Linked DNA regions of Homo sapiens. The protein of the gene in region 1 purifies or fractionates together with the protein of each later gene. This does not show direct contact. Each region holds a gene or a part of one and is shown in the gene's direction. Other genes may lie near its edges. The genes, in order: OASL, REXO4, DDX50 and DHX57.

Region 1 (8,080 bases):
TCTAACAAAATTATAATGTTATTAGTTATGGTTTACAAAATTGAGTGTTAAGGATGAATTTGCAAAAAGTTACAAAACAAATTAATTAACTTATAATTTTTTTTTTTTTGAGACAGAGTCTTGCTCTGTCGCCCAGGCTGGAATGCAGTGGCGCAATCTCAGCTCACTGCAAGCTCCGCCTCCCGGGTTCATGCCATTCTCCTGCCTCAACCTCCCGAGTAGCTGGGACTACAGGTGCCCGCCACCATGCACAGCTAATTTTTTATATTTTTAGTAGAGACGGGGTTTCACCGTGTTAGCCAGGATGGTCTCGATCTCCTGACCTTGTGATCCACCTGCCTTGGCCTCCCAAAGTGCTGGGATTACAGGCGTGAGCCACTGAGCCCAGCCTTATAAATACATTTTAATTCAAAATTGAATTTCTAAGGTCAAGGATAAAGTTTTTTTGTTAGTAAGTCAGTGACCTATAGGAAAGGCCCAAGGTTTCATTTATTTGGGAGATGAGAATTATACAAGATGATTCTGTGTTTGTTTCAAGGCCAAAGTGTTATAGCTTTTTTTTTTCTCCTCTGACTTTGGGATGGGAGCTAATATTCATATATGATGGCCATAGGAAAATATGTCAGTTTTACTTCCACAAATCAAACTACTGAATATTTGACCAAAATTTTTCACTTTCTGGCTAAATATCAATGTATCAGTGAAATTCTTTTTTTTTTTTTTTTTTTTTTTCTGAGACAAGTTCTCACTCTTGCCCAGGCTGGAGTGCAGTGGCATGATCTTGGTTCACTGCAACCTCCTCCTCCTGGGTTCAAGCGATTCTCCCGCCTCAGCCTCCCAAGTAGCTGGGATTACAGGCACCTGCCACCACACCTGGCTAATTTTTGTATTTTTAGTAGAGACGGGGTTTCACCATGTTGGCCAAGCTGGTCTCGAACTCCTGGCCTCAAGTGATCCACCCGCCTCGGCCTCCCAAGGTGCTGGGATTACGGGCGGGAGGCACTGCGCCCGGCCTCAGTGAGATTCTTAACACAGGAAGTGACCACTGTCAGTTAAGATGCTTCCTTTTGCAAGTAAGAGAAAAACACAAAAACCAACTCAAACTGGCTTAAACAATAAAGGGAATTATCAGCTTATGTAGGAAAACCCCTAAACAGTAGGGGGGGCGGGCGGGGGGGGCGGGTTTCAGGCACTGGTGAGGGCACTGGCTCTGTTTCTCTGGAATTCTCTCAGCTTCTCATTCCTCTATATGTCAGCTTGGTCCTTTGGCTTGTTTCCCTCTTGGTGGCAAAATGGCCACAACTATTCCTGCCCTCATATTCACACATGGGAGGACTTCTCTTCTTTCAACCACTGAACAAAAGAACTAGGCTTTACTCTAGTTGAGCCAACTTAGATCGCATGCCTTCTCTTGAAGCAATCACTTGCAAGGGGGAAAGGTTTATGCTGATAGGACTGTGCCAGTCAGGGCCCATCCTGGAGCTGCGGGTGGGGGTCAACCCCTTCCAAACATCATGGCTACTATGCAATGGGGAAGGAAAGAATGTCTGCTAGAGAGGCAACCCCAATCTTCACTACAGAATCTCACCTATTACCATTTTTTCCCTCTATCTAAGGAAACCTTTCCTTTCTTTTAAGAAACATTTCTCAGCAGCTCAATACATTAAAATAGATTTAAATGGGACTGCTTAGGCTAGAATGTTTGTGACCGAGCGCAATCTGCTCATACCTGTTCATAAGTTCATTCCAGGAGTTACATCTGTTGAGCATATATTGAAGCCCAATGGACTAACTCAGCCCTTTAATTCTAAAATGGTGAAACCTATGTCTAGAGATGGAATGTGACATGGCCAAGGTCACACAGCCAGTAGGCAGCAGAGCCAGGACTAGAACTTGGATTTCTCAGCTTCTGGTCCAACGCCATCCTTACACAGAATCTTAGGGTCTCTCTCTCTCTGTCTTCCCATCTCTTTCAACAGTATGTGAAAGCCAGGTCCCCCAGAGCCAATCTGCCCCCTCTCTATGCTCTTGAACTTCTAACCATCTATGCCTGGGAAATGGGTACTGAAGAAGACGAGAATTTCATGTTGGACGAAGGCTTCACCACTGTGATGGACCTGCTCCTGGAGTATGAAGTCATCTGTATCTACTGGACCAAGTACTACACACTCCACAATGCAATCATTGAGGATTGTGTCAGAAAACAGCTCAAAAAAGAGAGGTACTGGACCACTGTTTGCCCACCAAATCTTACAGAAAAAAAGAGAGACGGGCTAGTGTAACGTGGCATAGAGTTTTATGGATTGGCTGTATTAAGCAGTAAGGCTGCCACCATAGTTGAGCATCGACCTCCCACACCAACACAGCTGGCATCTCAAGTTGGTGGCTTATCAAAGTCACTGGGGGGCCATGGGGCGGGTAGAAGCCTGTTCCTTGTTTCCTAAGCCACCCTCCACCTTAGCTTGGCCTTCTTGCTCTCTGAAGACCATTTCAGTGCTTTGTAGGAGCTAGCATGGGAAAATGGAAAGAATCTTGGAGACTCAAGTTTAAATCCCAGCTCAGCCATTTTCCTACTGCTATGAGCCTCAATCCCTTATCCATAAGACAGGAGTAAACTGGAACCTACGACATAGGATTGATGTAAGGGTTGGAGAAAATCTGTGTTAAGGATCCACAATATCTAGCATCTGGCAGATGCTGAGTAAATGCTTATATTGGAGCATGTGCTGTCAGCGTCCCATTCATATCCTCTCGGCCTTTACCGTTCTAGGGAAGGTTGGTTCCACTTCCAGCTGTCAGCACCTGCATCCCTTTGCCAGCAGACCCACTCTGAGAAGAGCCCTCCACCAGATCTGGTGGGAGTTGGTGGATAAATACCACAGCTCCCTCACCCAAAAGATGGAAGGAATCTGGGTCTCATTGCGTAACTTTTTTTTTTTTTTTTTAAGACAGAGTTTTGCTCTGTCACCCAGGGTGGAGTGCAGTGGCGCAATCTCCACTCATTGCAACCTCTGCCTCCTGGGTTCGAGTGATTCCCCTCCCTCAGGCTTCTGAGTAGCTGAGATTACAGGCGCCTACAACCCACACCCAGCTGATTTTTGTATTTTTGTAGAGACAGTGCTTTGCCATGTTGGCCAGGCTGGTCTCAAACTCCTGACCTCAGGTGATGCGCCTGCCTTGGCCTCCCAAAGTACTGGGCTTACAGGCGTGAGCCACCGCACTGGGCCCCATTCCATACTCTTTCCTAAAGATCGCCTCCAGTGGACCACAGTAGTAATTACTTCAATACCCACTCTTTGTTGTCTGCCTTCCCTTATCTGTCTCACTGTCTCACTCCCTTATTTGTGCTTCCTGGGATCACTTTCCAAATAAGCCAAATCCTTATCTGGGGATCTGCTTCAGGGGAAGCCCAACCCAGACAACTCTCTGTGTTAGAAGCTCTGGGCCTGTGTAAGCAACATCACAGTATTTAGTGTTCTGTTATGTAGTATTGGGTCTCTTTTGTAAGGAAGAAAAGCCAGGTCTGCTCATGAAAAGAGGATTTATTATAACCATGGCCAGAAAAATCGAGAAAGCATCAGGACCTGAGACTCCCTCTCTCTCTCTGTCACTCTCTCTCATGAACTACAGCACTTTTCCCCTCAGCCTCTGCTTCTCTCTCCACACCTGTCCGGCTCCCCTCTGCCTCCCAGGTATAAGGGATCTCCATCATCCCCATGTCCAAACCCCAGAGAGAACCAGTCTGATTCCTGGTCACGGGACACAGACCCCATGTGTTGGGTCACCTGCCAGCCAACAGAATGAGCCACTTTAGATCAGTGACCCCACCCCATAGGACAGCCTGGCACTTTCAGGCAGGACTGTTTTAGGGAGCAGTCAGGGTTGGGAGGAGCCAGCCTGGAGCCCAAAGTCCAGTTCATTCCAGTAGCCTGTGTCACATTCGATTACACAGATGAAGTCGCAGCTCCCTCCCAAGCCCTGGAGTACAAAGGGCTGGGTTTTTTTTGTTTGTTTTTGGGTTTTGTTTTTTTTTTTTTAATGGAGTCTTGCTCTGTCACCTAGGCTGGAGTTCAGTGGCACGATCTTGGCTCACTGCAACCACCACCTCCTGGGTTCAAGCTATCCTCCCACCTCAGCCACCCAAGTAACTGGGACTACAGGCGCCTGCCGCCATGCCCTAATTTTTGTATTTTTAGTAGAGACACGGTTTCACCATGTTGGCCAGCCTGGTCTTGAACTCCTGACCTCAAGTGATCTGCCCACCTCGGCCCCACAAAATGCTGGGATTATAGGCGTGAGCCACTGCGCCCCACTCAAAGAGCTGGTGTTAATCATGGACTTGCAGTCACCCCAAGTTAATAAGCAAGCCCAAGATCCCCTTCAAGCCAATATTCTTTAAAATATTTATTCAATATTTATAGAAAGGAGAGACTTTTGGGGGCAGCCCAACCTCTGCTCTGTTGAGGAGGTAGATGGGTAAGAGCCCCCATCTACTGGCTGTAAGAACTTAGGGCAATCTAGGCCGGGCACCGGTGGCTCATGCCTGTAATCCCAGCACTTTGGGAGGCCAAGGCAGGTGGATCACGAGGTCAGGAGTTCAAGACCAGCCTGGCCAAGATGGTGAAACCCCATCTCTACTAAAAATACAAAAATTAGCTGGGCGTGGTGGCGGGTACCTGTAATCCCAGCTACTCAGGAGGCCGAGGCAGAGAATTGGCTGAACCCGGGAGGTGGAAGTTGCAGTGAGCCGAGATTGCACCACTGCCCTTCAGCCTGGGCGACAGAGCGAGACTCTGTCTCAAAAAAAAAAAAAAAAAAAAAAAAAGGAACTTAGGGAGGTCTGTAAAAAGGGGACAACCACAACAATAAACAATAAAAATAACAGTCCCTACCTTATAGAATTGCTGTAAGATTAAAATAGGTTAATCTGCATAGGATTTGGCCTTGTGCTTCAATAAATGTCAGTAGTTGGTGGCAGTGGTGTTTCTACTATCCAAAGTAATTCAGCAGCTCTAACCTTAAACTTAAACTTGCAAAACCTGCTCCGAAGGTACAGGGCCCCCCCTGCCTGAAAGGGCATCTGTTATTACTCCAGCATGCCTCTTGGGGCCTCATTCTCCCCCTAAATTCCTTGCAAACACTTAAGGCACTATCCCAAAGAAGAAGAATTTTTTTTTTTTTGAGACAGTCTCACTCGGTCACCCAGGCTGGAGGGTGGTGGCATGATCTTGGCTCACTGCAACCTCCACCTCCTGGGTTCAAGCAATGCTCCTGCCTCAGCCTTCTGAGTAACTGGGATGACAGGTGCGTACCACCACACCTGGCTAATTTTTTGTATTTTTAGTAGAGACAGGGTTTCACCACGTTGGCCAGGCTGGTCTTGAACTCCTGACCTCAAGTGATCCTCCCGCCTCAGCCTCCCAAAGTGCTGGGATTACAGGCGTGAGCCACTGTGCCTGGCCCAGATAGGAATTCTTGGAAATAGCATTGTCTCCATCCTGTTACTCTCCTGCGGTGTTTTGGGGCCCTCTTGAACATCCCCGGGATGTGGATATCACAATTCTCAGTGGCTGGACGAAATAATTGCCGAGAAGGTTTTTTTCTGGCTTGAAGGCCTTCAAACCATTATGAGCCTGGGCACCCTTTTCCTGTGTTACAGGCCCATCATCCTGGATCCGGCCGACCCCACCCTCAACGTGGCAGAAGGGTACAGATGGGACATCGTTGCTCAGAGGGCCTCCCAGTGCCTGAAACAGGACTGTTGCTATGACAACAGGGAGAACCCCATCTCCAGCTGGAACGTGAAGGTAATGGCTCCTCTCTGGGCTGTCAAGGGCTTGAAGGTCAGAACGACAGATAAACTACTCAGTATTTACTCATTCAGTTCTGTGTTGATGGAGAACAGAACTTTAGAGTCACCGTTTAAGGGCCAGCTGCACCACCCATGGGCTCCGTGAACTTGGACAAATTCTTTGGCTCTCAGAGCCTTGGGTTTCTTACCTTCAAATTCTTGTTCTCCTTTCCTTTCTTTTTCCCATAATTTACTGGAGAATCAGTTCTGTGTTCCTGATCATTCTTTGCGTGAGTTGGGTCCAGCCAAGTCAGCTCAATCAGCCATTCTGTGCCAGTGCTGTTCTCAGGGATGGGGTAGGGGATGTGGGCTGGGGGACAACACAGGCACAGAAATAAGACATGACCACGACGCTCGGCCAGGTGCGGTGGTTCACGCCTGTAATCCCAGCACTTTGGGAGGCCAAGACAGGTGGATCACTTGAGGTCAGGAGTTCAAGACCAGCCCGGCCAACATGGAAAAAACCCATCTCTACTAAAAAAATACAAAATTAGGCGGGCGTGGTGGCAGGTGCCTATAATCCCTGCTACTCCGGAGGCAGAGGCAGGTGAATCGCTTGAACCCGGGAGCTGGGGGCTGCAGTGAGCTGAGATCGTGCCATTGCACTCCAGCCTGGACAGCAAGAGGGAAACTCTGCCTCAAAAAAAAAAGAAAAAAAGAAAAAAAAAAGACACCACCCTCACTCTCAGAGAACTCACCCTATGTTGTCAGGAAGCAAATCCATGAAACAAACTTACACAAAACTGCTAGAATTACCAGAGAAGACAAGATACTCTGAAAACAAACAAACAAACAAAAAATACTAAGTCATATTATTATATGATGCCAAACCTATAGTATAGGCAGAGATCACAAAAATCTATTTTATTAACATCACACTTTCTAGTGTGCAAAGCTCTTGTCCAAGGTCTGTCTCAGTTGATCCTCATAAGCAATTCTGTAAAGTAAGAAGGTCGAGTGTTATCACTATCTTTATTATTATTATCATCATTACTATTATTGCCATTTTACAGAAGAGAAAACTGAGGCTCAGAGAGGTTAATTAACTAAGGGCACTCTGCTAAGAGGCAGCAGAACCAGGGGCTCTGGGGGTCTGGAAGCAGAATAAATGTTAACTGAAGTCACCAGAGAAGATTCCTTTAAAAAGTTAGGAGTTGAAATGAGCCCTAAAGGCCGGGGGGAGATATAGACACTCAGAACAGAGGACAAAGGATGATGAGGGGTAAAGGATGGGAGGCTGGGATGAGCAAGATGTGTACAGGACAGGAGACTGAACTGCTTGGAGCAGAAGGCAGAAGCAGAATCAGAGGCTCCAGTAAGGTACATAGAGTATAAACGGGGGGACCCGCTGGCCAAATGAGGAGGCCCACCCATGGGCTGGAAAATATACGCCTCTGGATTTTTCCTGAATATAAAAGCCATTGTAGGCTGGGGGCAGTGGCGCACGCCTGTAATCACAGCACTTTGAGGGGCTGAGGCGGGTGGATCCCTTGAGCCCAACAGTTCAAGACCAGCCTAGGCAACATGGTGAAACCCCGTCTCTACTAAAAATACAAAACTTGGCCAGGTGCGGTGGCTCACATCTGTAATCCCAGCACTTTGGGAGGCCGAGGTGGGCAGATCACGAGGTCAAGAGATCGAAACCATCCTGGCCAACATGGTAAAACCTCATCTCTACTAAAAATACAAAAATTAGCTGGGTGTGGTGGCATGTGCCTGTAGTCCCAGCTACTAGGGAGGCTGAGGCAGGAGAATCGCTTGAACCTGGGAGGCGGAGGTTGCAGTGAGCCAAGATCGTGCCACTGCACTCTAGCCTGGCAACAGAGTGAGATTCCATCTGAAAAAAAAAAAAAAAAAAAAGAACAAAACTTAGCCAGATGTGGTGGCACGCACCTGTGGTCCCAGCTACTCAGGAAACTGAGGCGGGAGGATCGCTTCAGCTTGGGAGGTCAAGGCGCAGTGAGTTAAGATTGCACCACTGCACTGCAGCCTGAGGTGACAGGGCAAGGCCCTGTCTCAAAAAACAAAACAAACACACACAACATTGTGCAAATATTTTTTATCTTGGCTAGTCAGAAAACTTGGCAATGCCAGGCTTATATTTCTTTTTCTTTTTCTTTTTTTGTTTTCCTTTTGAGACAGAGTCTCCCTTTGTTGCCCAGGCTGGAGTGCAGTGGTGCGATCTCAGCTCACTGCAACCTCCACCTCCTGTGTTCAAGAGATTCTCCC
Region 2 (7,931 bases), on another chromosome or scaffold:
CTCCAAACCACTCTTTTACACCCACAGAGCCGCACAAGCTGATGACCAGCAGGGGGATTCACCTTGTCTTTCCACCCCTCAAAGTGCAGCCTCTCTCCTCCTCTGCGATCAGGGAGGACACACCTACACTTCCTGCCAGGCCCTGGCTCTGGATCCCTTCCCAGCTCTCTCCTCCTGCATCGTTAGTTTCTGCCCCTCTGCTAGAGCCATTCATTCATTCCTTCAGCCAACAAATGTTTCACTGAGCCCCTGAAACAGGCCAGGCTCTGTGCTAGACACCAGGAAAGCAGCCCCAAGCCAGGCAGACAGCAGCCTCGGCCTCTCACAGCTTAAATTCTAGGGAAGAGAGCCAGACAGCAAAGTTGCTAGACAGACACATGTTGTATATGTAGTATGTTCAAAGGTGGTAAGTGTTATGGAGAAAAATACAGCAGAATAAAGGAATGGGGGACTGGAGGGAAGGGTGTGCTTTCATGCAGGAAGGTAAGGAGGCTGTTGGAGAAGGGGGCATGCTTAGATATCGAGATCCTGGTACCTGGCTCACTCCATCAGCATGAATGACTCTCCTGTCTCTTTTTGGTTTTTGTTTGTTTTTTGAGACAGAGTCTTGCTGTGTCACCCAGGCTGGAGTGCAGTGGCACGATCTCGGCTCACTGCAACCTCCGCCACCCAGGTTCAAGTGATTCTCCTGCCTCAGCCTCCCTTGTGGCTGGGATTACAGGCACCCGCCATCACGCCTGGCTAGTTTTTGTATTTTTAGTAGAGGTGGGGTTTCGCCATGTTGGCCAAGCTGGTCTCAAACTCCTGACCTCAGGTGAGCTGACTGCCTCGGCCTCCCAAAGTGCTGGGATTACAGGCATGAGCCACCAAGCCCAGACACTCTGGTGTCTCTTGATTACAATCAACAACCTTCCCTTGACCCACACTGTCCTCCTGCCATAGCCCTGTTTCTGGCTGTCTTTAAGAACTTAGAAACATTATTTTCAGTGGCTATCTCCACTTCCTTGCCTTCAATTCCCACATACCATTGAAATTGATCTTTAAAAGGTCACCAATAACTTTGTGAACCCTGAAAGAGCCAATCCTTCTTGATGGATCCCAAGTTACTAACTGGGCCTAAATTCAAAGTAGGACCTAGCAGCCATTTGCTGACTAGGGTCACACACACATTCTGCGTTCCTGGAAAGCCCCCACTCTCACTTAACTCTGGGATGGTTTCACAGCTATCTGTTCCTGTTTATGCCGCCAGAATCAACCCATCGACTGTGACCTGCATCGACCAATCTGAACTCAGCAAGTATTAACCAATCAGAACTAAGCAAGTGTGCCTTCCTCATTTGCATAAGTGGACCAAAGTGGGAACCTGGGCAGGAAGTTCTCTACAAAAGACGACCTCTTTCTTTGTTCTCTTTGTTCCCTGGAATGCACCTTTGTACAGAAGGCTGCATTGCCCTGGTTTACAAACTGCTGGAACAAAGTTTTTTTCCTTTTTTAAAAAGAAAACCTGGGCCAGGTGTGGTGGCTCACGCCTTTAATCCCAGCACTTTGGGAGGCCGAGGCAGGTGGATCACGAGGCACGCGGATCATGAGGTCAGGAGTTCGAGATCAGCCTGGCCAGCATAGTGAAACCCCGTCTCTTTTCAAAAATACAAAAATTAGGCTAGGTGCGGTGGCTCACGCCTGTAATCCCAACACTTTGGGAGGCTGAGGCGAGAGGATCACCTGATGTCTGGAGATCCATACCAGCCTGGCCAACATGGAGAAACCCCATCTCTACTAAAAGTACAAAATTAGCCGGGCGTGGTGGCACATGCCTGTAATCCCAGCTACTCGGGAGGCTGAGGCAGAAGAATCACTTGAACCCGGGAGGTGGAGGTTGCGGTGAGCCGAGATTGCGCCATTGCACTCCAGCCTGGGCGACAAGAGCATAACTTCGTCTCAAAAAAAAAAAAAAAATTAGCTGGGCATGGTGGCGTGCACCTGTAGTTCCAGCTACCCAGGAGGCTGAGGCAGGAGAATCGCTTGAACCCGGGAGGTGGAGATTGTGGTGAGCCGATATCACGCCACTGCACTCCAGCCTGGGCAGCAGAGCAAGACTCCGTCTCAAAACAAACAAAAAAAAAGAAAACCCTTTTCGGTGGACTTGCTGACAATCTCAGTGCCATATCTGGTTCCCATCTCTCTGTCCTCGTCCTTCTCAGCCTCTCAGCAGCATCTGATGTGGTTTATTCTCCCCCTGGATTCTCTGATGCCACTCACATCCGCTTCTCCTCCCACTGCACTGACTGCTCCCCCTCAGCCTCCTCTGCTGCTTCGCCCCTGGAGAGCCCCCAGCACCTGCTATCTGGTCTTAACCCTTCACTCCCTATATTGGTACTCTCTCTTTGGATGAACTAACCCAGGTTCATGTTTCAACACTAATTATGTGCTGACGATTTCCAAATTACATCTCCAGCACTGACCCTTCCCTAAGCTTAGGAATCTTATATCCTGCTGCTGATTAGACGTCTCTCCTTGGTGACTGACGGCCCGTTCAAACTCAGCAAGTGTGAAAAGGAGCTCATGGCTCCACCCCCATACTTCACCCTGCTCCCCGCAGACATTTATTGAGATGATAAATGGCCACACCCAATTGCTCAGACCAAAATCCTAGGAGCCTCACTTCCCTGTTACTCCATCAACCTCTGCCTGTTACACACGCACATCAAATCTACCCACTCCCGGCCGGGCACGGTGGCTCACACCTGTAATCCCAGCGCTTTGGGAGGCCGAGGCGGATGGATCACTGGAGGTCAGGAGTTCAAGACAGCCTGGCCAACGTGGCGAAACCCCAGGTCTACTAAAAATACAAAAATTGGCAGAGAGTGGTGGCGTGCACCTATAGTCCCAGCTACTCAGGAGGCTGAGGCAGGAGAATCGCTTGAACCCAGGCGGCAGAAGTAAGGGAGGAGACCACCCCTCATATTGTCTTATGCCCAATTTCTGCTTCCAAATAAAGAAGTAAAAACTAAAAGGCAGAAATAAAATCCACAGGCAGACAGCCCGGCGCCGCGCCCTGGGCCTGGTTAAAGATCAATCCTTGACCTAACCGGTTATGTTATCTATAGATTTCAGACATTGTATGGAAAAGCATTGTGAAAATCCCTGTCCTGTTCTGTTGCGTTCTGATTACCGGTGCATGCAGCCCCCAGTCACGTACCCCCTGCTTGCTCAATCGATCACGACCCTCTCACACAGACCCCCTTAGGGTTGTAAGCCCTTAAAAGGGACAGGAATTGCTCACTCAGAGAGCTCGGTTTTTGGAGACGTGAGTCTGCCGATGCTCCCCACTAAATAAAGCCCTTTCCTTCTACAATTCGGTGTCTGAGGGGTTCTTGTCTGCGGCTCGTCCTGCTACAGAGTGAACTGGCAGGAACTCCTCCCGGTGCCTGGGCCTCAGTTTCCCCACTGTACGTGGAAGATGAGCCGCTGTGAGGCTGAGCAAGGAGCAGCCCAAGGCGGGAAAGGCTCGAGAGTCCAGGACGCAGGCGAGCGACCTAGCCCGGCTCTCACTAGCCCCACCGCCCAGTGCCCCCAGCTCAGCTGCCCTACCAGGTGCTACACACACAGCGGCCCCCCAGTTCCCTTCCGGCGTTCGCATCTCTCATCCCCATCCCGGATCTTGGGGAGGTCCTCGGCTTGCCCCAGTCAAACTCGAGGTCGATGACCCCGGATGCCGCTGGCTAAGGCGGCGGCCCAAGTCCCGTGCGGGTGAACCGCCCAGGCTGCGCGGAACCAGAGGCAGGGATCCGGTTTCCAGCCGGTTGTGGAGAGACGAGCGCTTCCGGGGACTGGAGCGTGCGTGCTGAGGTATGCGCAACGCGTGCGGGGTCTCTTCCGGAGTCTTTTCCTGGACGGGGTCCCTGCGGTGGGTGTGTTTCGGCCTGGCCTGGGCAGGCGCTTGTGCTGCCAGGGCGCCGGGCCCGGGGAGGCCGGGGTCTCGGGTGGCCGCCGGCCCAGGCGCTGGACGGCAGCAGGATGGGGAAGGCGAAGGTCCCCGCCTCCAAGCGCGCCCCGAGCAGCCCCGTGGCTAAGCCGGGTCCTGTCAAGACGCTCACTCGGAAGAAAAACAAGAAGAAAAAAAGGTTTTGGAAAAGCAAGGCGCGGGAAGTAAGCAAGAAGCCAGCAAGCGGCCCCGGTGCTGTGGTGCGACCTCCAAAGGCACCAGAAGACTTTTCTCAAAACTGGAAGGCGCTGCAAGAGGTGAGGCTTGAGGGGGCCCGGGCGGAGCGCTGCGCAGCTCATTCCCGCAGAACGCGACGGAGGGAAAGACTTGGGTAGCCCCAAAAGACCTGTAAAGGCAGATTTGAATCGAAATCTTGTAAACAGCTTTTCACAAGAAAGGTGGCCTGTTGAGGGAGGTCTCGAACTTGTTTGCTTGAAAGAAATTGATGAAAGAATTATTTCAAGTACAAAAAAGCAAAGATAAACCCTTGTACCTTTTGCATAATGAACTAACTAGAATGGATTTTACAAAGAGAAATTTAGCTTAAAATCCCGAAACCAGGCCGGGCGCGGGGCCTCACGCCTGTGATCCCAGCACTTTGGGAGGCCGAGGCGGGCAGATCCCCTGAGGTCAAGAGTTCAAGACCAGCCCGGCCAACATGGTGAAACCCCGTGTCTACTAAAAAAGTACAAAAAATATTAGCCGGGCGTGATGGCGCGCGCCGGTAGTCGCAGCTACTCGGGGAGCCTGAGGCAGAAGAATCGCTTGAACCCGGGAGGCAGAGGCAGTAGTAAGCCGAAATCGCGCCACTGCACTCCAGCCTGGGCGACAGAGCGAGACTCCATCTCAAACAACAACAACGAAAGAACACACTGGTCTGTGTAGCAAGACAGGGAGAAAGAAGATTCCTGTGTAGAAGTGAAAAGCAGATAGCAGACATGTGATGGGGTTCTAGCGACACTTACGGTCTTGAAGTAAATACTAATTGAGCTCCTAAAAATGTGCACTCTGCCATGTGCTCTATGCCATGCGTGTTGCAATCCCCACAATAAGACTGTGAGGTGGACACTTCCATCATCGCTATTGTACAGATGAGGAAATAGGCTGGAAAAGTTTAAATAGATCATCTAAGATTGCGGCTGGGAACCAGGTGGCTGACTCTGGAGTCCATGCTTTTAAGGCTGTGTTGTACCTGCTGTCTCCCTAGTGACCTGCACTTCTGTAGAGGTTGCCTGCTCTCTCCTAGACACTCTTCCACGTGCGTCACTCATACATTCTTACCACATCCCTTGGAGCTCCCTTGGAGCTACCTCCTGTTAGGATCATAGCTCACTGCTGCCTGGGCTCCAGTGATTCTCCTGCCTCAGCCTCCCGAGTAGCCCACACGTGTAATCCCAGCACTTTGGGAGGCCCAGGCAGGAGGATCACTTGAGCTCAGGAGTTCAAGTCCAGCCTGGGCAACATGGTGAGATTCCATCTCTAAATAAAAGTAAAAAGTAGTTTTTTTAAAAAAGAAATGTGATCCCCAGTGGTGGAGATGGGGCCCATAGGAGGTATTGGGTCATGGGGGTAGATCCCTCATGAATGACTTGGTGCCCTCCCCTCAGTAACGAGTAAGTTCTCACTCTGCTGGTTCATTTGAGAGCTGGTTGTTTAAAAAGAGCCTAGCACCTTTTTTGCTTGCTCTCTCACCACGCAACACACCTGCTCCCCCTTCACCTTACACCATGATGGGAAGCTTCCTTCGGCCTCACCAGAAGCAGATGCTGGCACCATGCTTCTTGTACAACCTGCAAAACCATGAGCTACATAAACGTTTTTTCTTTATAAATTACCAAACACAGGTATTCCTTTATAGCAGTGCACAATGAACTAATACAGATGGGGTTTCACTTTGTTGCCCAGGCTGGTCTTCAACTCCTGACCTCAAGCAATCCTCCCACCTCAGCCTCCCCGAGCGCTTCTTGAACCTCCTAATACTCTGCACAGTATCTCAGTGCAGACATTCCTGTCTTAACACACAGGACCAGTCAAATTCCCGTGGGCAGCCCCAGGGTTCTGTGGGATTTCTTGAACACCAACTCTTCTTCCTTCTCCCAAGAAAGAAAAGCAAAATAAGTGAATGGAAGGGATGTGTGCTATAGGGAAACTTTGGAGTGTTTTCTAATTCATCCAAGAAAGTCAGCCCTTCAGTTCTTTACCTATCACAGAACAGGTAAGTAGCACCCGCCTCATCATCGCACTGTGGTGGCGCCCACTCCCACTGGGGATTTGAACACAGGGAGGAAGCTGGGCTCTAAGACTACAGGAGCCTCTGCTTGGGTGACAGCCAAGGTGTGTGGCTGCTAGCAGTTCTTCAGCCACTCCAGTTTGACAGAAGCTTTTCTTTTCATTTATGACACCCCCCACCTTCCTGAGATCTTCACAGCAGTAGCAAACCAGGGAATCTTGTAAAAAAAAAAAAAGCGATTTCTGTGTAGCAGGATGTTGGCCCAAGCTGTGAGGGAAGTTAACTCCAAAATTCTTTCTAGATAAGCTGAAAAGGGAAGTGGTCTGTGGTGTCCAGCCACTCAACAGGTACCCAAGGTGTAGAATGAGTTTGACATTTTGTATGCATGAAGGAGCAGGTGCAAAATGCATTATAATAAGATAAGCAAAGAAACAGCATTTCACCACAAGTGACCCATGAGAATGAAAAAGAGCTTTTTCCAAACCGTTTGAAAATGAATTTCAGTGATGCGGATGGGAATTGTATAGATGTGTTTGGTGTATATGTGTGTATATACATACACACGTAAGTTTTTTCAATCTGCTGTGTGTAATTTCCAAATTCAAATGCAGCATGTATTTTATTTTGGGTCCCAGTGGCTGCTGAAACAAAAATCTCAGGCCCCAGAAAAGCCTCTTGTCATCTCTCAGATGGGTTCCAAAAAGAAGCCCAAAATTATCCAGCAAAACAAAAAAGAGACCTCGCCTCAAGTGAAGGGAGAGGAGATGCCGGCAGGAAAAGACCAGGAGGCCAGCAGGGGCTCTGTTCCTTCAGGTTCCAAGATGGACAGGAGGGCGCCAGTACCTCGCACCAAGGCCAGTGGAACAGAGCACAATAAGAAAGGAACCAAGGAAAGGACAAATGGTGATATTGTTCCAGAACGAGGGGACATCGAGCATAAGAAGCGGAAAGCTAAGGAGGCAGCCCCAGCCCCACCCACCGAGTAAGTATGGGCCACCTCACCACTGAGAACCGAGGCACAGCGACTTCACCAAGGCCTGTCTCCTTATGGAGGCTGGTGGCCTCACCGCAGTCTCTCCATCACTTTACCCTGATGTCGTCTGTTCCTTTGTTTACTCGCTGTTACTTGTTTTCCCCTAGAGTGTGCGCATGATAAGGCAGGGCCTGCTTCTTCCGAGCGTTGAGCAGAGCTCAGCATTTAGTGGGTGCCAGTACACGTGTGTGGAAGGAAAGCGTGCTGAAGCCAGAAAGACCCAAGTATGAGGCCTGTCCCTGCTTCTCGCCAGTTGGGTGGTTTGGGGCAAGTTTCTGACGTCCTCTGTGCCTTGTGGTAGTCATGGTGGCATCATAAGGAGATTGTGAGGTTGGCACTCTTGGCTCAGTGCCTGGTGATTACTTCAACCCTGTGATGGAGCCAGGTGTGGTGGCTGTTGCCTGTGATCCCAGCTCCTTGGGAGGCCAAGGTGGGAGGATCACTTGATCCCAGGAGGTTGAGGCTGCAGTGAGCTGTGATTGCACTACTGCCTCCAGCCTGGGTGACGGAGCAAGACTCTCAAAAAAACAAGTGAAAAGAATAAACCCTGTGCTGGCCACCCACGTGGGGTGGACCGGGAGTCAGTGGCCTTCTCTGAATGGTTCAGCTGGAGGTGACGTGTTCATAAGTTACAGCTGGCTTCATGTTGCCTGGGTGTTCAGGACACAGTCGCTGATGGCTGA
Region 3 (7,000 bases), on another chromosome or scaffold:
AGTGGAGCGATTACGGCTCACTGCAACTTTTACCTCCTGGGTTCAAATGATTCTCCTGCCTTAACCTCTCGAGTAGCTGGGATTACAGGCATGCACCACCATACCTGGCTAATCTTTGTATTTTTAGTAGAGATGAGGTTTCACCATGTTGGCCAGGCTGGTCTTGAACTCCTGACTTCAAGTGATCCACCCACGTCAGCCTCCCAAAGTGCTGGGATTACAGGCATGAGCCACTGAGCCTGGCCTGATCATTGTTATGAACTTTTTGACTTTAATATAGTGGCCAGGAATACTAGGAAGTGTATTTATAATACCAGGAAATTTGCAGCAGAGATGAAGATCTACCTAATATAAATAGGTTCAGTGTCACTAATGCAGCAGAGATGAAGATCTACCTAATATAAATAGGTTCAGTGTCACTAAAAATTACAGACATGTAAATTAAAACAACATTGGGAAATTATTTTTGCCTATTAAATTCACAAAGATTACAATGATTTATAATATACACAAGCTGGGTAGGGTATGTTGAAATAAATACTCATAGAGTATTGAAGAATAAAAGGTACACAACTTTTTTTATAATACAGTTTTTTAAATAATACAGTTTCTGTTAAAATGCTACATGTTCATAATTTTTGACCCAGAAATTCAACTTCTAGATATGTATCCTACTGAAATATACAGATACTGAGGCATCCAGAGATACAAGTACAAAGTTACAAAGTTGTTCATTGCAACATTGTTTGTTTGTTTGTTTTTTTTTTTTTTGAGATGAAGCTTCACTCTTGTCCCCCAGGCTGGAGTGCAATGGCACGATCTCAGCTCACTGCAACCTCCACCTCCCGGGTTCAAGCTATTCTCCTGTCTCAGCCTCCCAAGTAGCTGGAATTACAGGTGCCTGTCACTGCGCCTAGCTAATTTTTTGTATTTTTAGTAGAGACAGAGTTTCACCATGTTGGCCAGGCTGGTCTCAAACTCCTGACCTCGGGTGATCTGCCTGTCTCGGCCTCCCAGAGTGCTGGGATTACAGGTGTGAGCCACCATGCCCGGCCCATTGCAGCATTGTTTCTAAAGGTGAAAATGTGAATACAGCCCAAAAGTTCATCAGTAGGATATTGCTAAAATAGATGCTGGTGCATCCATATGAATAAATTATATACAGTTTAAAAAAATTAAGTAGCATTTTATCTATAGATGTGGATAGCTAAGATACACTAAATTTATCAAGTAGGTTACAAAACCCTACCTATGTAATATCCACGTTATAAATAAATACATAAAGTCATAGTATATGCTAGTGTAATGTGAGTATGTGTGTATTAAAAAAAAAAAGTGGCCGGGTGTGGTGGCTCACGCCTGTAATCCCAGCACTTTGGGAGGCAGAGGCTGGCGGATCACCTGAGGTCAGCGAGTTCAAGACCAGCCTGATCAACATGGTGAAACCCTGTTTCTACTAAAAATACAAAAATTAGCTGGGCATAGTGGCAGGCACCTGTAATCCCAGCTACTCGGGAGGCTGAGGTAGGAGAATCGCTTGAACCTGGGAGGTAGAGGTTGCAGTGAGCCAAGATCGCTCCATTGCACTCCAGCCTGGGCAATAAGAGCAAAACTCTGTCTAAAAAAAAAAAAAAATCTGACAGAATATTTACCAAACTCTTAGCAGTGAATTATTTCTAAGTCACTAGTATTAGGGAAGCTTTTACATTTTATGTTAAATATTTTCTGTCATGTTTGACTTTTTTTTTTTACAGTAAGCATGCATTGTTAAAATCATCAAAGTAAGATTTAAAAACATGCAAAAGGAGCACAGACTAGATGTTGTTGTGCTATCAGTTGCAAGTATGAGCTGTACACTTAATTTTCTCCCCCTTTCTCAAATAGAATGCCCAGTGTTTACATGGGGACATTGCACAGTCACAAAGAGAAATTACACTAAAAGGCTTCAGAGAAGGTAGTTTTAAAGTTTTGGTGGCAACCAATGTGGCTGCCCGTGGTTTGGACATTCCTGAAGTTGACCTGGTGATTCAAAGTTCTCCTCCTCAGGTAGGAAATGGGATTTGATTTGGGAAAAATAAGAGCAATTTTATAAATTCCCATTTAATTTACAACATATTGCTTGGGATGTGAAAAATATGTCATCTCTTCTTGCTCTTAGCCATTTTTTGTTAGTGTGCTATTAAATTTATCAGATTCTGATACTTTTGCAGATGATTAACTCTATTGTTTGTATTTGAAGCATGGAGCAACAAAATCAGGCAGAGAATTACAAAAAGTTGCCATAAAGAAACCTGGGATGAGGTGGATTAAAAGGTTTTAAATCATATTGCCTTTACCCCAAAATCCACACATATAAATTGTTTGGAATGTTGAAAAGGGCAACAGGATTGAAATAAATATATTATTATTAACATTATTATTTGGATTCCGGAATGACTGCAACTTGCTAGATTTTTAAAAAATATTACCTTTTATAATCTTTAGGATGTTGAGTCCTATATCCATCGCTCTGGACGCACAGGTAGAGCTGGACGGACAGGGATTTGTATATGTTTTTATCAACCAAGAGAAAGAGGTCAACTAAGATATGTGGAACAAAAAGCAGTAAGTAGAGTTAAATTATTTCAGGCTTATTGTCTAAATGGTGCCTTAAAAGAGAGCTCTTCTTATATTTATTCTTACAAGTAGGTCTTCATAACTTTTCTCAGTTTAAGCTGCATTTGGCTGTGAAGCCTGTGGAGATCTAAATTTATATTAGCTTCAAGACTTTAATACAGCTTTTATTGTGAAGACAGTGGAGCTGACTTTCTCATCTTTTCCTTGAATTTCTCTCTTCATACTAAAATCAGAAGTGCATTGTGATTTCAGTACTTCTTAGTGTAAATGGGTGACTAAAAGATTGTCTTGGTATAATAGTTAAGATTCTTTTAAGTATGGTACAATAGACAGTTTCTAAAGAAACTGTACATTTTCTGTGGTCTGGATTTTTTGTGGTATTTCACATTTTTTCCTATTTTTATATGTGTTTTTATATGCAATTTCATATACTTTGTAAAATGAGATAGTGTAATAAGGAAAAAAGCTGATAGATTTAAACATCTGTTTTGTTTTGTTTTTTTTTCAAATCAGGCTTGTTTTACAAGTGAAATTCCATGATTGTAACTAAGGGGCAATTCAAAAAATTATTTTTCTCTTTCTGAAATTTGTAATTGATGATTTATGAGAAAAAAAAGATCTTGGCTGGGTGCAGTCACTCACGCCTGTAATCCCAGCACTTTGGGAGGCGGAGATGGGCAGATCACTTGAGGTCAGGAGTTTGAGACCAGCCTGCCCAACATGGTGAAACCCCATCTCTACTAAAAATACCAAAATTAGCTGGGCATGGTGGTAGACACCTGTAATCCCAGCTACTATGGAGGCTGAGGCAGGAGAATTGCTTGAGCCCAGGAGGTGGAGGTTGCAGTGAGCCAAGATCACGCCACTGCACTCCAGCCTGGGCAACAGAGCAAGACTCTGTGTCAAAACAAAAACAAAAACAAAAACAAAAAAGATAAAACTGATCTTTTAATCTGCTAGGGCTATGAAATCTTTAAATGCAAGAAATAGAAATTCAACGAACTATTAAAATATTAATTTAGGAATTAATTGTAAAGACTTCCATTTTTCTTTAATGTAACTCTTTCATTTTCAGGGAATTACTTTTAAACGTGTAGGTGTTCCTTCTACAATGGATTTAGTTAAATCTAAAAGCATGGATGCCATCAGGTATGCTTTCTGAACTTGCTGAATAATTGTTTCTTTTGTATTAGGCTATTCATCTGTAAGCTCTCCCAGTTCAAATAGCAGAAAATTTTACCACCAGTTTTACCAGCAGACATTTAGTTATATTAAAATATAAAACAGTGGCTCATGCCTGTAATTCCAGCACTTTGGGAGGCTGAGGCGGGCAGCTCATGAGGTCAGGAGATTGAGACCATCCTGGCTAACACGGTGAAACCCTATCTCTACTAAAAAAATACAAAAAATTAGCCAGGCGTGGTGGTGGGCGCCTGTAGTCCCAGCTACTTGGGAGGCTGGAGCAGGAGAATGGTGTGAACCTGGGGGGCGGAGCTTGCAGGGAATCGAGAGTGCACCACTGCATTCCAGCCTGGGCGACAGAGCAAGACTCTGTCTCAAAAAAAAAAAAAAAAAAAAAAAAAAAATATATATATATATATATATATATATATATATATAAAATGTGGCTGGGCACTGTGGTGCACGCCTGTAATTCCAGCACTTCGGGAGGCTGAGGTGGGCAGATTGCTTGAGCTTAGGAGTTTGAGACTAGCTTGGCCAACATGGCGAAACCTTGTCTCTACAAAAAATACAAAGATTAGCCAGGAGTGGTGGCGCGTGCACCTGTAGTCCCAGCTACTTGGAAGGCTGAGGTGGGAGGATTGCTTGAGCCCGGGAGGTTGAGGCTGCAGTGAGCCAAGATCGTGCCAGTGCGCTCCAGACTGGGTGACAGAGCAAGGCTCTATCTCAAAAAAAAAAAATTACTCCTTCTTTTTCCCATTTTTCTTCTTATCTTTTATTTTTTCCCTATGTCTTGACCAAGAATACTATTTTTAAACCATAGGTCTCTGGCTTCCGTTTCTTACGCTGCTGTTGATTTTTTCCGACCATCAGCTCAGAGACTGATAGAAGAGAAAGGTGCAGTGGATGCATTGGCTGCAGCTTTAGCCCACATTTCTGGTGCATCAAGCTTTGAACCACGATCTTTGATCACCTCTGATAAGGTAGAAATCTGTGAGAAAATTGTACATGAGTGGGAAAAGGTTAAAATTGAACATAGGAAATATTGTAGTGAATTATTGTGCTTTTTGTGCAGAAAAAAACTGTTTTGCTCTATGAGAAACTGGTCTCCTTATTTTCCTCTACTCCCTAATAAATCCTTTTTTGACAATCACCTCTTCCAAATTTTTCAAACCCACAGAAAAACTGAAAGAATAATGCAGTAACCACATACGATCCACCTAGATTCAACTGTTAAAAGTCTGTATCATGTGCTTTATATCCTTTTTTAGCTCTAATTTGTAATTAAAAAAAAAATGACATGTAATAATTGTACATATTTATAGGGTATGTGGTGATGTTTCAGTACATCCGTACATACCATGTATAGGTATCAGATCAGGATCATTAGCGTATCCATCGTCTAAACATTTATCATTTCTTTGTTTTAGGAACCATTCAATATCTTCCTTCTTGCTTTATAACTTTATAAGTTTTTTTTTTTTTTTTTTTGAGATTGAGTCTTGTTCTGTTACCCAGGCTGGAGTGCAATTACGTGATCTTGGTTCACTGCAACCTCTCCCTCCCGGGTTCAAGCAATTCTCCTGTCTCACCCTCCTGAGTAGCTGGGACTACAGGCGCACGCCACCATGCCTGGCTAATTTTTGTATTTTTAGTAGAGACAGGGTTTCACCATATTGGTCAGGCTGGTCTCAAACTCCTGACCTCAGGTGATCTGCCCTCCTCAGCCTCCCAAAGTGCTGGGATTACAGGCGTGAGCCACCTCACCCGGCCTGTATTTTTTTTCTAAATCATTTGAAAGTAAGTCGAAACACCGTGATATCATCCCTAAATATTTCAACATGCATCCTCTGAGAATAAGGATATTCTGCTACATAACCACAATATAATAAGCTCATCTGTGAAAATTAATGATAGTTCTGTATCATCATCTAATATTTAGTTTATATCCATTTTTTTCTCATTATCCTGAAAATGTCTGTCTGTCTGGGTATTTGGAGAGAAATATAGGAAATGCTCACTTTGCACAGACCTTTGTTAACTGAAACTTGTATCCCAGAACCTACATTTCATTTTGTAAGTTTCCATGGAATCCTGCAAAGTAAGAAATAGACTCTGCACAATTAACACAGTAGCATGCAAAGTAAGTAAGAAATGCCTGTGTGTGTGTGGAGGGGTTGTGTAAGTGTAACACCATCTGAACTGGCCTGCTGCCAGATTCGTATCACATGTCAAAACATACCACACCAGAACCATTGGTGCAGGTAGCTCAGAGATTTTTTACTTATTCAAGTATAAGTGAGGGGAGTTTCTTGGTGAAGAGAATTTTAAATAAGAGTTCTGTTATGTCTGAGTGGAGAGAGTGAGTGAGCGAACCTGGTCCTGGAGACATCTATAAGACTAGAGCCTGCTGGTGGGATTTTCAAATAATAACAAAACAGACTAATTTGGGCAGCACATCCCTGTGATGGGGAGGAGGAAACAAAAAGGGCAGGGCAGGTTCACTTGGATGTGACTTATTTGGTGTAGCACAAATGAATGCTGCTGGGGTATCTGATGGTTTCTACCTGGTAGGTGTTAATAGTTTAGCTAAATGTCATTTTGCTTTGAGTGACTTATTGGGCTCCATTCCGTTTATCCATATGTGTACATATACCTATTTGTATGTATGTTTTTAAAAATTCAGGACCTAGTTAAGTTTTACATGTTACATTTGGTATTATGTCTCTTTAGTCTCTTTTAGTCTGGAACTGTTTTCTCATCTTTTTAATTTTTTTCTGATATTGATTTGGTGAAGAGTCTTGGTCGGTTGTTTGGTAGAATATCTCACTGTCTGGATTTGTCCGAATCTCTTCAAGCATCATTTAACTTTTGCCTTTATCCTCTTTTAAACTGAAAGTAATATCAAAGCTTGACTTTTATATTTAGGTGAAATGTTTTTGGCAAGGGTACTTTATAGTTAATATGTACCTCATATTGCATCACATCAAGAGGCATAAAATGTTAGGTTGTTCCAGTACTAGTAATGCTTAATTTGCATTTGTTTAAGATGGAAACTGCCATATTGTAAAGGTGTATTTTACTCTCTGTAATTAGTAACTTGTGGGGTGATACTTTAGCATTGAGCAGATATCCTATCCCTAGTAACCCACCAAATGCTTAAGACAGTATTTAAAACATATTTCTTTAGAAAATATTGAGA
Region 4 (8,080 bases), on another chromosome or scaffold:
CCCTGGACGTTATCATCAACCCCAAAAGAAACCCTGTACCCATGTACCCATAGCAGTCTCTCCTCATTTTCCCCTTCCCCCAGCCCCTCATAACCACAAATCTGCTGTCTATCTCTATGGATTTGCCTACTCTGGACATTTCATAGAAATGGAATTACACAATATGCAGCTTTTTGAGATGGGCTTCTTTCACTTAGCTAATGTGTTCAAGGTTCATCCGTGTTCTAGCACATATCACTACATCATTCCTTTTTATTAGTGAATAATATTCTATTATGTGGACATACCACATTTTGTTCATTGATTCATCATTTGATAGATATTTGTGTTGTTTTACGTTGTGGGATTTGGGGACACTTGCGTACAGTTGAAACATTCACTGCTAATTCTTTTAATGCTAATTACTTTGTTTGTGCTTGATAAAAGTTTATTTGAGGATGCATTTTAAGTTCTTTAGAAATAGAAATACTAGAAATGAATGAACTTACTTTATTCAAGTTTTCACTTTTTCTCCATTTTGACTTTTTGTTGTTGATACTCTGTTAGACAGCGACTTTCCCCTTTTGTTAAAGAAAGGGCTCCATACTGAAATGTTTTCTTTTATTTCCTTCAAGTTGAAAAAGCATCAGAATCTGAGGAGTCAGATGAGGATGACGGTCCTGCACCTGTTATAGTAGAGAATGAAAGCTATGTGAACCTTAAGAAAAAGATTTCCAAAAGATATGACTGGCAGGCAAAGTCAGTACATGCTGAAAATGGTAAAATCTGCAAGCAGTTCCGAATGAAACAGGTAGGGTATGCTGAGAGAATGAGTAACGTTGCCTCCCTAATATCTGGATGATGGGATTAGGAATTAGGGAGCTTTGGCTACCCTCCTTAAAATTCTTCTGGTTCTTTTTCTCCCTGAGTGGTCAAAGTTTCTACAGGCCACAGCAAACTTAAGTGCATATGCTAGATGGTTTTGGAAAATCCTATAGCTGGTACATAGCAAACACACACATATATGCCAAATAGTCTCAGAGTCATGTGCCTTTGGTACTGTGACAGACAATCTGGTATGTAAAAGGAATATCAATACTGTGGTTTACTGGCCGGGCACGGTGGCTCACACCTGTAATCCCAGCACTTTGGGATGCCAAGGTAGGCAGATCACCTGAGGTCAGGAGTTCAAGACCACCCTAGCCAACATGGCAAAACCCTGTCTCTACTAAAAATACAAAAATTAGCCGGGCGTGGTGGCAGGTGCCTGTAATCCCAGCCACTTGGGAGGCTGAGGCACAAGAATTGCTTGAACTTTGGTGGTGCAGGTTCCAGTGAGCCATGATTGCACCACTGTACTCCAGCCTGGGCAACAGAGCAAGACTCTGTCTCAAAAACAAAACAAAACAAAATAAAAACAAATACTGTGGTTTAGAGCCAGGCGGGCGTGGTAACACATGCCTGTAGTCTCAGCTACTTGGAAGGCTGAGGCAGGAGGATCACTTGAGACAATGCCAGCCTGGAAAACATAATGAGTCCCTGTCTCTAAAAACAAAACAAAACAAATACTGCGATTTACCTTAGAAAAAATTAATATATAAAAGGAGAAGGATAAGGAAGGACTTTTACCCTGTTTCAAAGACTCAAAGGATAAATAATGTGCCCAAGATCGCATAGCTAGTAAGTGGTTTAGCCAATTCTGTTTCTAAAGTCCATTTTGTTTTTACCCCATTCACATGAAGATTATTTTAAAAGAATTCATAAGTGAATCCTGAGGGCAAAGTTAGAGATAGGACAGAGGCAAGTTGCTTAACCAATATGGGAATTGGATTAAATGCTCTCTAGGCCCTCCAGTTCTAAAGTTCTGTGAGTCTGATTTTTGACACCATGTAACACCATCACATATGTAGTACAATACCCAAAGAACATCACAATGTATATAAATTGCACTGTAGGTAAGATGATAGAAACAAAAAATTAGATATTCAATTTGATCAGTGTGATAAGTTTATGATAAAATTATATGTAGGAAATAGCAAGTTCCTGTAAATTTATTACAGTATTCAAAAGTATAGCCAGAGTTTTAACAAACAAGGCAATTTTTATAGCATTGGCCATTAAATATGAAATTGATTTATATAGTTGTAGTGACTGCCCAAAAATAACCCTTTAGTGAGTGCTTTTCTATTATTGATTTAGGTAAAAATCTGATATTGCTTAGAGCTACGCTGTCTGATATGGTAGCCCCTACCCATGTTTGGCTGTTTATATTAATTAATTAAAATTAAAAATTCAGTTCCTCAGTAACACTATTCTTCACATTTCAGGTGCTCAATAGCCACATGTAGCCAGGTGTTGCTGTATTGGACAGCACAGGTATAGAACATTTCCATCAACACGGAAAGTTCTATTGGACAGTACTGGTATAGAGACTCTTGTTGGGAAGAACTGGATATGTGCTAAGCAAGAGGGCTTTATTTCACCCAGAAAATCTTTCGGTTTATTCAGATGTTGGAAAACTAATGTACAGATTCCACAACTCATTCTGGCTGATTCTCTGAGCAGCATTCTGAATAAAGTCTTCTACATCCAATCCCAACAAATCCAACAAAGGATCACTCAAGGCCAGGAGTGCAAGACCATCCAGGGCAACATAACAAGACTCTGTCTCTATAATTAAAAAAAAAAAAAAGCTGTAATCCCAGCACTTTGGGAGACCAAGGCAGGTGGATTCTTGAGCACAGGAGTTTGAGGCCAGCCTGGGCAACATGGTGAAGTCCTGTCTCTACAAAAAAATACAAAAAGCCGGGTATAGTGGCACACACCTGTAGTCCCAGCTACTTGGGAGCTTGAGGCGGGAGGATCGCTAGAGCCTGGGAAGTGCAGATTGGAGTGAGCCGTGATCGCACCACTGCACTCCAGCCTGGCAACAGAGTGAGACCCTGTCTCAAAAAAAAAAAAAAAAAAAGAAAAAGTAACCCAACTGATATCTTATCTTTGATTTTATTAGGCTTCCAGACAGTTCCAGTCCATTCTGCAAGAGAGGCAATCACTCCCTGCTTGGGAAGAAAGAGAAACCATTCTTAACTTATTGCGTAAGCACCAGGTGGTTGTCATAAGTGGTATGACTGGGTAAGAATGCAGTTTATTCATCTGTAGCTTTCATCTATAAATATTATATGCACCCTGGTTACCATAACCAGTTGAACTTGTTAAAAACTGTAGCTGGATTTATAGATATTATATACATCTGCCTTGAGACATAAGGCAAAAAAATCCAGCTGAAGACTTTTAACAAGGCTCATGTTTAAATTTAAAGGATAGTTCTAGAACATTTAGCTTGAGAGCTTTTTATCTTCTGAATTTATTCTGATTTCCTGTCACGCAGGCTGGAGTGCAGTGGCATGATCTCGGCTCACTGCAACCTTTGCCTCCTGGGTTCAAGTGATTCTCATGCCTCAGCCATCCGAGTAGCTGAGATGACAGGCGCACCACTGTGGTGCACCACCATACCCAACTAATTTTTGTGTGTTTTTAGTAGAGAGGGGTGTTTTACCATGTTGGCCAGGCTGGTCTCGAACTCCTGGCCTCAAGTGATCCGCCTGCCTCGGTCTCCCAAAGTGCTGGGATTACAGGTGTGAGTCACCACACCCAGCCTTTATTTTTCTTTTAAAAACAACTTAATTATGGTGCGTTATTTTTCCTGCTTTACATTCTCCTATTTAGCAGGGACAAATTGCAGACTTCATTTATTTATTCAAGAGTATACAATTTAATAATTATATTTGTGTCCAGACTCAGTGATATGGTAATAATTCGTACCTTCTAGTTTATCTTTTTAACCTCAGCCTAATCATAGCTAAATTAATACCTATAAAATATTTTGATAATCATAAGCTAATACTCCTTTTCTTTGGGGTTCATGTGTAGAGTTTACGTTCCTAGAAGCATTTACAGACCTTAATTTAATGTCTGTTCAATAGTCCCAATTTTACAAATGTTACTAAACTATTATTTGATTGTCCTTTTGATTGGAGTGCAAATTCCTAGAATTTCCCACCTCTTGGTAATAAGTCAGGAGGTTGTTTTAGAAAATACCTGAAACTGAACAACTTTTATTCTAATTAGCTTTATCACTTTTCTCATTCCATATGATTGCTTCTTTAGTTAACTAGCCCTTGAAAACTTCATTTTAGGACTTATTTGTTTTAATGTACAGATGTGGGAAAACCACACAAATTCCGCAGTTTATTCTGGATGATTCTCTGAATGGACCACCTGAGAAGGTAGCCAACATCATCTGTACCCAACCCCGACGAATCTCTGCAATCTCTGTTGCTGAACGCGTTGCTAAAGAAAGAGCAGAGAGGGTGGGTCTGACCGTGGGATACCAGATTCGGTTAGAAAGTGTCAAGGTTTGTATGCTCTGCTTATTTCCTGGTAACAGAAATTTATGGTTTTTAGGTATAAAAAGTTTTGGGGGTTAGGAGATTCATGGGCAATTTGGGATATATACTTTCAGGTTATTTTTAAATTAATGATTACCTTTGGTAATCATTTATTTAAATATTTAGAAATATTTAGAAATATTTTGGTATAAGAACTCTTATGGCCAGGCGCGGTGGCTCACACCTGTAATCCCAGCACTTTGAGAGGCCAAGGCAGGTGGATCACCTGAGGTCGGGAGTTCGAGACCAGCCTGACCAACATGGAGAAACCCCATCTCTACTAAAAATACAAAAATTAGCCAAGTGTGGTGGCACACGCCTGTAATCCCAGCTACTCGGGAGTCTGAGGCAGGAGAATCCCTTGAACCTGGGAGACGGAAGTTGCAATGAGCCGAGATTGCGCCATTGCACTCCAGCCTGGGCAAAAAGAGCAAAATTCTGTCTCAAAAAAAAAAAAAAAAAAAAAACTCTTATTTGGTTGTACTAAATTTCCTCTGTAAAGCTTTTTATTTTTTATTGGCAGAAGTCATCTAGTAAAGACTGTTTTGCTCTTGAACTTGGGACATAATCCATTTAACCAAATAAGGAGCAGACAGATTGAGAACTGTTTTCATTATTCACTGTTTTTTAATGCTTTTTATGAAAATCTTAACATTGTGATATGAAGTAGAAAGGCTTTTATTACTGTCCCTGGCAAGAAACTATGTTTAGTATGGTTTCCTATTAAATGGAACTGCTGGTGTTTCCAATATTTTTTATCACTATCCATTCAAAATGGCTTTCCAGTAATGTTTCCTTTTTTTGAAAATTTTATTAATGATTTATATTGCCCTTTCATGTGTAAGTCCTCAGCCACCAGACTGTTATACTGCACCACGGGAGTGCTGCTGAGAAGGCTAGAAGGAGATACAGCTCTACAAGGAGTTTCCCATATCATTGTTGATGAAGTTCATGAGAGGACAGAAGAAAGGTAAAACAAAGACTTTCCCAGGGAACACACACTCACCTGAATTGAAGGCATGGCAGAAAAAATTGTTTTCTAGTTCCAATTCAGTTTCATGCAGCTAGTAATGGTAATTTGCCACAAGGAAGGCCTATGTTAGAGAAGAGCAACTGCTTTCTTGATCTCCAGGGTCTGTAACACTAAAAAGGACAGCACATGCTCATCACTTATTAGATGGAGTCATCCTGTTAGGTTAGAAGGTATACTTCACACCATCCTGGGCATTATGCTAAGTTGAATACCGTACTTAGTAGAAATAACAGATGTCATGCATGCTGTGGCTGAATGTATCTTCTTCCTTGTTTATTTGGCCATTCAGTCCTGACATTGATTCATGTATTTATTGAGCCTGCATTAAATGCCAAGTGATATATTAGTTGCTGGGGATACAGTGATGAACAAGCATGTATGGCTCCCCCTCATCTCTTACAGTCCAGTAGAAAAAACAAATAATGAACAAGTAAACAAGCAAATGATTGTAAATTGGAATAAGCACTATGAAGGAATAAACGGCATGCTGTGTTTGGAGGGAGAGACCCATAGATGCTCAAAGATCATATCTCTGTAAGATGACAATTTAAATTCAAAACTGAAGTATGGCCGGGCGCAATGGCTCACACCCATAATCCCTGCACTTTGGGAGGCCAAGGTGGGAGGATCGCTTGAGCTCAGGAGTTGGAGCCCCACCTGGGCAACATAGTGAGACCATGTTTCCACGAAAAGTAAAAAAAACAAAACAAAACAAAAAATAGCCAGTAGTCATTCTACTGGGGATACAGAAAAAAAAAAAAAAAAATTAGCCAGGCGTGATGCCTCACACCTAAGGTCCCAGCTACTCAGGAGGCTGAGGCAGGAGAATCAATTGAGCCCCCAGGAGGTTGAGGCTGCAGTGAGCTGTGATAGCACCACTGCACTCCACCCTGGTCAAGAAAGCAAGACCCTGTCTCAAAAGAAAAGAAAAGAAAAGAAAAGAAAACTGAAATATGAGAAGGAATCCCAGGTGACAAACGGGGGTAAGGAAAGTATGTTTGAAGATTTTGCAGTGGGAAGGGGCTTTGTGAGTCCAGAAACAAGGAAGCCCAGTGCACCTGCTGTGTAGCAGCAAAGGGGAAAGTAGCACAGGGAAGAAGCAGCAGGAGCCAGACCTTCCAGGGCCTTAAGCACCACGAATAATAAAGCATGTGGATTTTATCTTATGAAATTAGAAGTCATTAAAGGGTGAGGCATAAAATAAAAATTCTTGCCAGACACAGTGGTGCATGCTTGTAGTTCCAGCTACTGAGGAGGCTGAGGCAGGAGGATTGCTTAAGTTCAGGAGTGCAAGGCTGTGGTGTGCTATGATTGCACCTGTGAAGAGCCACTTCAGCCTGGGAAATATCATGAGACTCCATCTCTAAAAAAAAAAAAAAAAAAAATTAAAAGTCTGAATATTTTAAGTACTGAGGAGGGCCAGGAAGATGGATGGCATTAATCATAGTTTGTCATGTGGATCATGCCCTAGAGCAGTAAAAGAAAACTAGTGGGAAAAAAGAGAAAGTCCTGTGAAAATTATGAAGTTTTCCCACAAAGTATTGTACCACAATAAATATCTTGAGAAGAAGAAAAAAAGTCTAAGTAAACTTGGTGGACTGATAGGAAAGCAGAAAATAGCTAAAAGCAAAACATTAAAAAAAAAAAAAAAAAAGGATTGGTGGCAGGCGCCTGTAGTCCCAGCTACTCGGGAGGCTGAGGCAGGAGAATCGCTTGAACCTGGGAGGCGGAGGTTGCCGTGAGCCGAGATTGCGCCACTGTACTCCAGGCTGGGCGACAGAGCAAGAAAAAAAAAAAAGGAATTGAACAGAGAAGGCATATAACCAGAAGAACTATTAGAAGAAATAATACATTACTATTATTAGTAAATAAGAAATATGAAGTAATTAGAAACTAAAGAAAGACTTTTAGATAAAAAGAATGAACCAAAAGAAAAAGAAATAATTCCTAGAACAAGACAATAATAAATATTAAATTACTATACAGAAAACATTGGAAATCTCTAAGGGGCAAATAATCTTTTTGTAGAAACTCCAGAAAACAATGGGAAAAAAAATTAATGGTAAATAATGTCATTTTGCCACTGTTGGAAATGAACATCTGAAAGAAGAAATTTTTTTAACAAAATCATTGAACAACTTGGAAGAGGAAGCCAAATAAAACATTCTCTCAGATTAATGGTATTTAAATGATTGATTTATAAAGATAAGTTTAAACTTTTAGGGAAACCTATATCCAGTATAATTTTGAATATGAAGAGTAGCTTTGGATTCTATAACATTTGTACTTCCACAAACTTGAAGAAATGAGAACATAGCACTGGATTTGGTTCCTGGCTAAAATAGGAGAAAGATTTTTATAAAACCTAAGGATCTGTAGAATATGAACGTTAAAAATTCAAAAGATGTTCACATCTGAATAAAGATTAATTACACAGTGGAGAAGGGTGCTTCAAATATTTACAAATACCAGTTTACAAGAAAGGGTATACAAATTACAAGGAAAAGTAGGGGAATATTTGCTAACTCTGACTGAAAAAAGCAAAAACTAATAAAATCTAGGAACAAAAATCAGTAAAAATATTGGCAAGATTAAAGGTTGAATATAGAAAGGTGACAGT

The links.
Region 2: the proteins of OASL (region 1) and REXO4 purify together in Homo sapiens (co-immunoprecipitation; 2 studies listed by BioGRID and IntAct, with this or other methods). This does not show direct contact.
Region 3: the proteins of OASL (region 1) and DDX50 purify together in Homo sapiens (affinity purification with mass spectrometry; 2 studies listed by BioGRID and IntAct, with this or other methods). This does not show direct contact.
Region 4: the proteins of OASL (region 1) and DHX57 purify together in Homo sapiens (affinity purification with mass spectrometry; 2 studies listed by BioGRID and IntAct, with this or other methods). This does not show direct contact.

The regions. Positions count from the first base shown.
Region 1 is NC_000012.12:121,021,717-121,029,796, reverse strand, and holds part of OASL (2'-5'-oligoadenylate synthase-like protein), read left to right. Parts: intron 1-1,979; coding exon 1,980-2,221; intron 2,222-5,659; coding exon 5,660-5,807; intron 5,808-8,080.
Region 2 is NC_000009.12:133,413,931-133,421,861, reverse strand, and holds the start of REXO4 (RNA exonuclease 4), read left to right. Parts: upstream 1-3,851; 5' UTR 3,852-4,017; coding exon 4,018-4,242; exon of another isoform or gene 4,243-6,200; intron 6,201-6,850; coding exon 6,851-7,197; intron 7,198-7,217; exon of another isoform or gene 7,218-7,525; intron 7,526-7,931.
Region 3 is NC_000010.11:68,932,315-68,939,314, forward strand, and holds part of DDX50 (ATP-dependent RNA helicase DDX50), read left to right. Parts: intron 1-1,884; coding exon 1,885-2,046; intron 2,047-2,484; coding exon 2,485-2,604; intron 2,605-3,691; coding exon 3,692-3,765; intron 3,766-4,621; coding exon 4,622-4,781; intron 4,782-7,000. UniProt on the Homo sapiens protein: ATP-dependent RNA helicase that may play a role in various aspects of RNA metabolism including pre-mRNA splicing or ribosomal RNA production.
Region 4 is NC_000002.12:38,851,371-38,859,450, reverse strand, and holds part of DHX57 (putative ATP-dependent RNA helicase DHX57), read left to right. Parts: intron 1-614; coding exon 615-790; intron 791-2,989; coding exon 2,990-3,111; intron 3,112-4,198; coding exon 4,199-4,394; intron 4,395-5,272; coding exon 5,273-5,397; intron 5,398-5,485; exon of another isoform or gene 5,486-5,570; intron 5,571-8,080. UniProt on the Homo sapiens protein: Probable ATP-binding RNA helicase.